2 separate regions of the Homo sapiens genome follow, and region 2 is linked to region 1. The links come from fine-mapping of genetic effects on gene expression. A gene starts in region 1. The other region holds a variant in brackets. All regions are shown on one strand. Distances are between the middles of the regions.

Region 1 (4,387 bases):
TGATGAGCTGATCTTAGTCTGCTTAAAGACCTGGAATGGAAGAAGGGGACCAGGAGGAAAAGGTGAGAATGAGGCAACAAGACTATTCTGTGTGACACATTCAAATGCATGCCAATAAATAAGTGTTAAGATAATAAAAATTAAGTGCTAAGGGCACTAAAAAGCCAAAAGATCACCTTTTGCCAGGGGAATTTGAAGGGGCTTTGTACAGGAATCCGTACTCTGAGGACTGTAGAGGTGAGTATTTGAAGATGAAGAGCCTGGGAATTCCATATTAGGAAAGGAAGCTAACTAGGGCAAGAGGTTAAGGAGAAAAAGCTGAATTGCTAGGTAGGGGGTAGATTACAAAGATTTCCCAGGGTAAGGAGCCAAATGCCCATGGGAAATCCATGCAGTAAAATAATGATTCCTAGGGGAAGCTTCTAAGCATATTAAAGTTTTCAATATTTATTTATTTTGTGTTGAGAGGGTCAAGGAATTCATGCCAGACTGTTTCAGGAGAGGGAGTTAAGAAGGGACAACAACAGGGAGAGGGCTATTATTTTCCCTTCTTCCCAAACACCAGGGGCACACTACTGACACATTTTGATTTTAAGATAAAATTCTTATGGGCAGATAAGATTTTAAGTGCTTCAAAGTGTTTCAGTTGGAGGCGCTTGCTTAGGCATCCCAAGGGAAGAACTGAGATTACATTTCTCCCCCAAACTAGGGGTGTTTGATTCAGTAGCAGCGCAGGCTGTTATTCCCAAAGTACCACTAATGATGCAATCATCAGTCCATCCACACATCGCCTACCTATCATCCATTCCATAAGCCAACATTTTTGAATGCTCACCATGTGTCAGGTCCCATACAGTGTTTCTGAGTTGCAACAATGAGTAAAACTGTCCTTACTAGTGTATGTCAGTGAGTTGGGAATGGGGGAGAAAGATGAAACAAAAATAGTAACTTTAATTTTTATAGCTGAGAGATGAATATTTGAGGGCTCCTTATATGATTTCTTCAGCTTTTTGTATGTTTAATAATTTCCCTAATAAAGTTAGATAATAAAAAAAACCCTTTCGGCCGGGCGCGGTGGCTCACGCCTGTAATCCCAGCACTTTGGGAGGCCGAGGTGGGCGGATTGCGAGGTCAGGAGATCGAGACCATCCTAGCTAACACTGTGAAACCCCGTCTCTACTAAAAAAAAGAAATACAAAAAAAATTAGCCGGGCGTGGTGGCGGGCGCCTGTAGCCCCAGCTACGCGGGAGGCTGAGGCAGGAGAATGGCGTGAACCCAGGAGGCGGAGCTTGCAGTGAGCCGAGATCTCGCCACTGCACTCCAGCCTGGGCGACAGAGCGAGGCTCTGTCTCAAAAAACAACCAACCAACCAAACAAAGAAAACAACAACAACAAAAAACTGTCCTTTCTTTCAAACAAGGGAGCTACATTTGATAGATGCCTGTATCACAAGGGCAAGTCCAGCCATGAAATTAATCCCAGGATATTAGTGGAAGAGAAGACCCTGGGGCAAGATGGGGAAGGTGGTCAGGAAATGCCCTCCAGTGAAGTTAGGTAAATGCTCTCTAGAAGTAATTGTTCAGATTAAGGAAGCCAAAAGCTAAACACCTGACTCAGCCTCAAACTGGGTTTGGAGGTGCTCACAGGTCAGGATCAGGAGTGAGGAACTAGCCTCTACCACATTACCTTCACTTTATTTATCTCCTTCTTCCCCCTTTGCTTAAATGTCAACGAACATCAAAGTTGATGTTCAGATTCAACCAGCATTTCCAGAGCACCTACTATGTATCAAAGGCTTCCGGTTAGAATCTGCCTTTACCACCTTACAGAGAGGGAAGGCCGAGAATGCCTCAAGCCGTGGAGAACGTGAGTCCATCAGGCAAGGACAGGTTAGGAACCCAGTCCCTCCAAGTCCAAGTCAGGGAAAACAGGTCAGAAACTTAGAATCAGTCGTGGGTTCAAATTCCGACTCGTTTCGTGGCTTTCGGCAAGTGAGTGGTCCTCTCTGAGCTGGCTCAATTTCTCCATCCATAAAAAGGGTACAGTAAGACCGTGGAAGGTTGTAAGGACCAGAGATTCTGACTATCAAGATCCTGGCACGTAGCGAAGGCTCCATAAATGGCAGCCATCATTCTTGGCCAAGTGCGGGCGCATTCTCCCGGGCACGCCTCCCGCGGGGTCCCTCAGGACAGGCCGAGCCCGCCTCCGCGGCTCCGGTCTCGCAGAGCTCGCGCCAGGTGGCCCAGCATCTTGGTGCCCGCGCCCCGAAGCGAGGAGCGAGGGCGGGTTGGATGACCAAGGTCTGCCCTGGAGGATCACCCCCCCCGCCCCTTCCACGCTCCCGGCGCAGGTGAGGTTTTCGGCCCAGGCCACGGGGACCGCGACCTCTGGGGAGGTCGAGGCGGAGGGTGCAGCGGGGGGCTTGGAGCAGGGCTCCAGAGGGCGCTCCCTCCCTCGCCCAGGTTCACCCCAGGGCCAGCCTCGGCGCCGGGGCCCGCGGGCTGCGCGCTCTGCGGCTGCGAAAACCCGGAGAGGCGGATTGGAGCGCGCTCACCGCGCTCTCAGCCAACTCCTCCGCGGTCCGGCCGCCGAGCTGGGCATGCTCAGTGCGGACGCCGCGCCGCCGTCCGCCAACTCGGAAGCTCGCGCTCCCGGGCCGTGGGGGCGAGAACGCCGGCGGCGAGCCGGCGTCGCTCGCCGCCCCCAGACAGTGGCAAACTTCGCGGCGTTCCCGGAGCTCGTCCGGGCGAGGCAGATACCGCACAAATAAAATCAAATCCAAGTCCCCCATCCCAACCCGAATGATGGAGGCTGCGGCGGCCGGAGTGACCCCGCCGCCGCCAGCCCCAGCCCGCTAGCCGCGGACCAACAGGTAAAGTGTTGGGGGTTGGGGGCGGAAGGGAAGAGGAGCTGGGGCCGTGGGGAGGCGGCGGGCTGGAGGAGCCCGAGACGCCTGCGGGCTGGCTGCCCCCGTCGGCGCTCACAGCCATCGCTCCTCACCCCCTTCCCCAGCCCCTGGAGGGACTGTAAAGGGTTAAGTCGGCCCCACGCCACCGTGAGCACGGCCCCCTCCAGCCGCCGCGACCGCCAGCAGCGCGCCTCGGCGCCTGCCCGGAGCCGCCGAGGGGACCGTAGCTGCGGATGCGCCACTGGAACCTGGCGGGCGTCTAGGAGGCACCGGCCGCTTCCCACCGGCCGCATCCCTGCGTCTCGCGCCCCCTCCAGACCTGCCTCTGCCTGCACTGGCCCGGTCCGTGTCCAGGTGGCGGGGTCTGCGGGGCGCGTGGCGGCGGGGGAAGGGTCCCTGCCGGGGAAGAGAGGCGGGGGCGGTCCGCTCCACAGCTTCTTCCCGGGAGGGGAGGGCCACCCTCGCCTTGGGCGAGCACTTCAGCCACCAGCCTAGGCGCCAAGAAAAGTTTTTTTTTTTTTTTTTCCAGTGCCCCACCCCCACCCCCATCCTGCGCCCAGCTGGGGTGGGTTTGGGTCCATTGGTGAAAAAAGTCACACGTTCCCATCAGCTGCTCCTCCCCCTGGAGACAAGGTAGGGGGGAGCAGAGGAGGCAGGCGCCGCGGAGGACCCTGGCCGACCTCTAGTCCCTCCGCCGCCGCCACCGGAGCGGTGCGTCCCGGGGCTCGAGCGCAGCCGAGTACCCGCCGAAGGCTGTCCCCATCAGTGCGTGTCTGCTGCCGGGCAGCGGCAGCATCCAACCTGCTTTATTCCTCCTGCCTGCAGCGCCACAGCGAGCGAGCGAGCGAGGAGGGGGAGAGAGGGAGTCTGTCTGCAAAGTGCTGCTCCCTGGTGCTCAGAGGCGGCTGCTCCAGCTCCAACTCTCATTCATTTCGCCGGTTAACATGAGAGATCATGGCCGCCTTCGGGCTTCTCAGCTATGAGCAGAGACCGCTGAAGCGCCCCCGGCTCGGGCCGCCCGACGTCTACCCACAGGACCCCAAGCAGAAGGAGGTAAGGGCGCCGGCGGCCTCCCCGGCAACCGGGGCCGCGCTCTGCAGCACTGACCCGGGGCCAAGTTGGCCCAGCGGGCATCGCCGGCGCTGCGGTGGAAGAGGTCGGGGAGGGGGATTAGAGGCGGGGGCCAGGCTGGGGGTGCTGGGCGACCCCCCGGCGGCGGAGACCGAGCGGCTGTCAGTCCCCGCGCTCCACTGGGGCGCTCGCTTTCCATGTGCCGGTCGCTTTCCCGTTGCCGGGCCTTGCACGGCGCCGCCGGGCGCTTCTCGGGCTTCTTCCCTGCCGAAACCTTGCTCGCTCTCACCCGTTTCTGCCTGCTTTATTTTTCTTCTTGCCGCTTCGGTAAATCGTCGTAAACTTTTTGAAAAATGTTGGAATGCAGTGCATCCTACACTGAGGTCTTGCGTTTTGCTTTTGCTGGC
Region 2 (4,387 bases), 84 kb before region 1:
TATTTAGTTTGTTTTAAAATAAAAGCCGCTATAGTAGGGAAAACATCATTCCTTATTGGGGAGAGAATGCAGAGCAGATAGCAAAGTTTTCATGCAGGGAAGAATAATCAATATTCAAAATCTTACTTCTCAATACACAGATGGATTGAATTCAGGCTTCAGCATCATTTAATTAAATGGACTATTGTTTCTCTCTCACGAGTTTTAGTGAGAGCATTGCAAGTATGAGGAGAGCAGGATTAGGTTCTAATTGAAGCAGATCTATCTGCCTCAAAGCCGAGGAGTACTGTTTAAACAGACTGAGAAGACTTTTATTTAAACTTCATATTCAAAAGGGTGTGGGTGCACAGATGGGTACACGTTACCTCCTTGGTTTCTAGTTTTAGAAGCAGGGCAAAAACGTTGGGTGAGTTCAAAATTTTTTTTAAATTACAGCTGGGTTTCTTCATAAAGCATATTAGCTAGGTGGCATTGAAAGGGTAGTATGTAATTTGTGCTTCTGCAACACTTTCTTCCAGAAAATGCGTTTAGATTTTATTTTCATTTATAATGAAAACCAATATTTAAATGCCTGTTATGAAGTAGCAGGTCAGGAGTTTTAAATGCACTAAGATAATTCCTACAATAACACTATTATTCCCATTTTTACAGCTGATGAAACTGAGGCTCACAGAAATTTTACACATTTTTCAAGGTCACTTAGCTAATAAATAGCAGAGCTGGAATTCAAAGCCAGTTATTTATGGTCCCCAAACCAATATTCTTTTTATTAGGTATTTCAGATTTTGAAGGAGATGAAGCCAAGGTGTATAATTCCTTTGTTTCTATTTTCACAGAGTTAAACTTAAATAGCAAATATAAGTCTTATTCCTCAAACTCTGCAAACAAAATTAATTTCTTTCATTTTCATAAATCAATTTAATGATAATTTCAGGCCCCCACCCTGCTAAATTGTCTACTAATTGCTGAAATGCCCCACTGTCTCAGCCCAAGTGTTTCCTTGAAGTCTGAAGTCAGCTATTTCCACACTATGTTTTATCCTTGGTCATCCTTGGCATGCCATGGCGCCACCCTTGGGCCCAGCCACTGAGGTCTGTTCCAGTCCCTGGGACTTCATCTTGAGAAAAGTCTTCTTTGATCATACTTCCCCAGAAGGACTCCTCTCTCACCTCAAATTCTGATCCCAACAATGAGTTTAGGCTTTTGAAAGTAAAAGACAGGGCCGGGTGCGGCAGCTAACGCCTGTAATCCCAGCACTTTGGGAGGCCAAGGTGAGTGGATCATTTGAGGTCAGGAGTTCGAGACCAGCCTGGCCAACATGGTGAAACCCCGTCTCTACTAAAAATACAAAAATTAGCTGGGCGTGGTGGCGGACACCTGTAATCCCAACTACTTGGGAAGCTGCAGCAGGAGAATTGCTTGAACCTGGGGGGCGGAGATTGCAGTGAGCCAATATCGTGCCACTTCACTCCGTCCTGGGCAATAGAGCGAGACTCAGTCTCAAAAAAAACAAAACTAAACTAAACAAAAAACAAAAAAAAAGAAAAGAAAAGACAGGAGGAGGATAACAATAGCACCTACTTCAAAGGGTTGCTGTGAAGATTAAATGAGTTAATACCTATAAAATGCTTAGCACAATGCCAGATATAGTACATGCTAGTAAATATTTGCTATTATTACATTACTTTAGAATATACTTACATATATCTTTTTCTCAATTTTACTTTGGTGGCCTGCAAAATACATGATAAAATGTAGAATTTGTGATGATTTGCATATAAGTGGTGCTGGTATTGGTATATGCCCTCCAGGCACAGAAATTCTACTCTTCTACTTCACACAATTCTCATCAAAAAGGAGAAAAAAGTACAATGCTGTTACAATTGTATGCACTGAATTTTACAGTATATTATTGCCAAGAAAAAAACTTCCATATTGTCTAGTTATCAATGAGAATTCCACCCTCCCCTTACAATTTTACACATGCTATGATTAGAAGAATTCCACAGAGGCTAGCTTCCGGCTCGAGTTTTTCAAATCTCGTGTCTCCTCCATAGCCGTATGTCCAGAATTACGTGCTGTATCTCACTTTCGTACCCCAACCCCTGGCCGTGAAGCTTGGTTCCATGATGAATCAGCATAGTAGATAAAAGGAGTATTCCTGGACGCCGTTTCTACACTGGCGTGATTGAAAACCACCTAAAAATCTCTTACTAAACCCAACTTTAGTGTAATCCCACCTCAACATCCCATTAGCCATATCCAAAAAATTCCCACACTCAGTGC[C/CA]ACCTGACGGGAAGGGAAACGTAACAGCAGTGAAGTCTGATTGGAAAGAAACAGTAACCTTAATTAATTAAGGTAAACGTATCTTACATTTGCAAAATTTCCATAAGCACTATGTAAATTTATGGCTAGGGTCCCTCTGAGGTCCCTGAAAGGTATCTGTGCAATAGAGGGGCCTGAAGCTTCAGCTTAGTTGATTTCACAGTAAATCGCATCACAAGTATTAAGTGGGATGATTCATGTAAACGGCATAGGACTGTGCCTAGCACATCCAACAAATGTCAACCCTTGTCTGCAGTCGAGTAGTAGTAGGGCTAGTAGGCGTTATTTGTGTTGATTTTTGTCCACATGCCCTCTCCTCCTTGTCTGCCCATTCTTGGCCCTTCTGTAACCTGCTGTGCCTCAGGAAGCTGACCCCTGTGCTCTTTCTTACACAGACTTCCTTGCCCCTGGTGCTTTCCTGTGGCCAGTGAGAAGCATCAGCAAGAAACTGGTAGGTGGGAAGAAAGAGAGTTTGGGCTATTTATATTCGTTCCCCCCATCTCCATATGCTCTCCCTCCAATTTCCTCATGGTTCGGGCTCTGTCTGCACATAGCTGTAGCTCCTATTGGGTGGATTCTCTCCAAGGACTATAGATTGTGCTGGTTTTGATAACACAACCTCCACCCTTTGCTCTCTTCAGGCCTAAAAGTAGAACAGGCTTCCTCAGTCCCTGGAGGCCTCACCATCCTTTGTTTGTTCCCTTAACCTGTCCATACCTTTGTAACTAGTGGCTTAATTAAATCCCTTTCAATAAGTTGTTTTGAGTATGCTGTTTCCTGCAGAATCCCTGATTAATACATTGTTTGTTCTGACCCCAACTAGTATGCCCCATGGTCATCCCTTTTCTGTCTCCTGATATCCTGAGATAAAAGGTATTGCCTATTTTCTCCTTCTCAGAGTAAGTCATGAAAAATATGTACATAAAGTCATTTTCCCCTCCAGTAGTATGGCCATAAACTGTATGAAATCCATGTGTGACTTAGAGGAGAGCTCTGCTTGTTGATCTAACTGTTAATTTCCCCTGGGGGTAACATGTCCCTTGGAGTGCTTAGCCTGTCTTTAAAATTTTTACGTTTCCATATGTGTTTATGTAACCACTTAGTTCTGTCCTATGTAGCTCTAGGGATATGTGCTACACTCAATGGAAGTTGAATTGTCCTGTCATATTACATAAGATGAAAATCTGACTCCATTCAACTGCCAGAGCAATAGCCAGAGAAGACATTAAGTGAGAACTGATTTTTGGCCCGGAGATCCTTTTCCATTCATGAGTCCTCTAGGGTTTCTCCAAGGCTACACAGATGGTCATTCTTCAAAAGGAATACAGTTTTTTTCTCCCCTTAGGAAATACTTAATCTGGACATTAGAACTGTTTCTGAGAGTGGGGAGGAACACAGGAAAAACTCACCAGCACAATGTTTATTTTTAATAAGAGAAAGGGAAAGGAATGTGCAGATAGAGAACATTCTTATGTTTTCTTCTTCATACAGCTGCAGGTGAGATCTCCAGAGACTCTGACTTTAGAAGTGCACCAGACCAGGAATCTCTGTAACAATACTGCCTGTGAAGAGCATGGCTCAGGCCTTGTTTGATCTGATAGTCATGGCCACCCATGAAGGACTTGTATTTGCCGAGTATTCCAAAAAATATCTCGCATCTGACTCTATCCTAGGCTGAACTGTTAATCTGTTCTTTCATCCCTTCAATCAGTATTTGTTGAGTGCCCATAATGGAGGAGGCCTTGTTTGAAGTGCTAAAGATACAGCTGTGAATACGACAAAGTCCTTGCCCTCATGAGCTTACATTCTAGTAGGAGAGACAGAAAATAAACAAGTAGGTAATTAAATACATATAATACCTTATAATTTTAATTAGTGATAAGAGCTCTGAGGCAGTAATGCAGGGTAAATTTGTTGTAATCAATCAATATCTTATTAATGTTGGTATGCAGAAAAGAATGAACAATAGCAGGCCTGAGGCTGCAATGCTTAGACCGGCTGCTTGCAATGTTGACCCTTGGCTGGTATCTGGAAACTTGAATAGTAAACAGTTCCCTAGACT

Evidence for each region. PIP is the estimated chance that this variant, and not a neighbour inherited with it, causes the effect.
Region 2: its variant is the best candidate, but not a certain one, in a credible set for the expression of MED12L in tibial nerve (GTEx, PIP 0.76).

The regions. Positions count from the first base shown.
Region 1 is chr3:151,083,064-151,087,450 of GRCh38, forward strand. It overlaps MED12L (mediator complex subunit 12L), which reads left to right and starts at 2,601. Exons shown (of 45, transcript NM_001393769.1): 1 at 2,601-2,873; 2 at 3,735-3,962. The coding sequence starts at 3,864. RefSeq lists silencers at 2,253-2,622, 3,059-3,353.
Region 2 is chr3:150,998,854-151,003,240 of GRCh38, forward strand. The region is part of intron 1 of CLRN1-AS1 (CLRN1 antisense RNA 1); the gene reads left to right. Among named protein-coding and RNA genes, the nearest start is that of CLRN1, 28 kb to the left of the region's middle. The variant C/CA (reference allele first, on the strand shown) is at 2,287.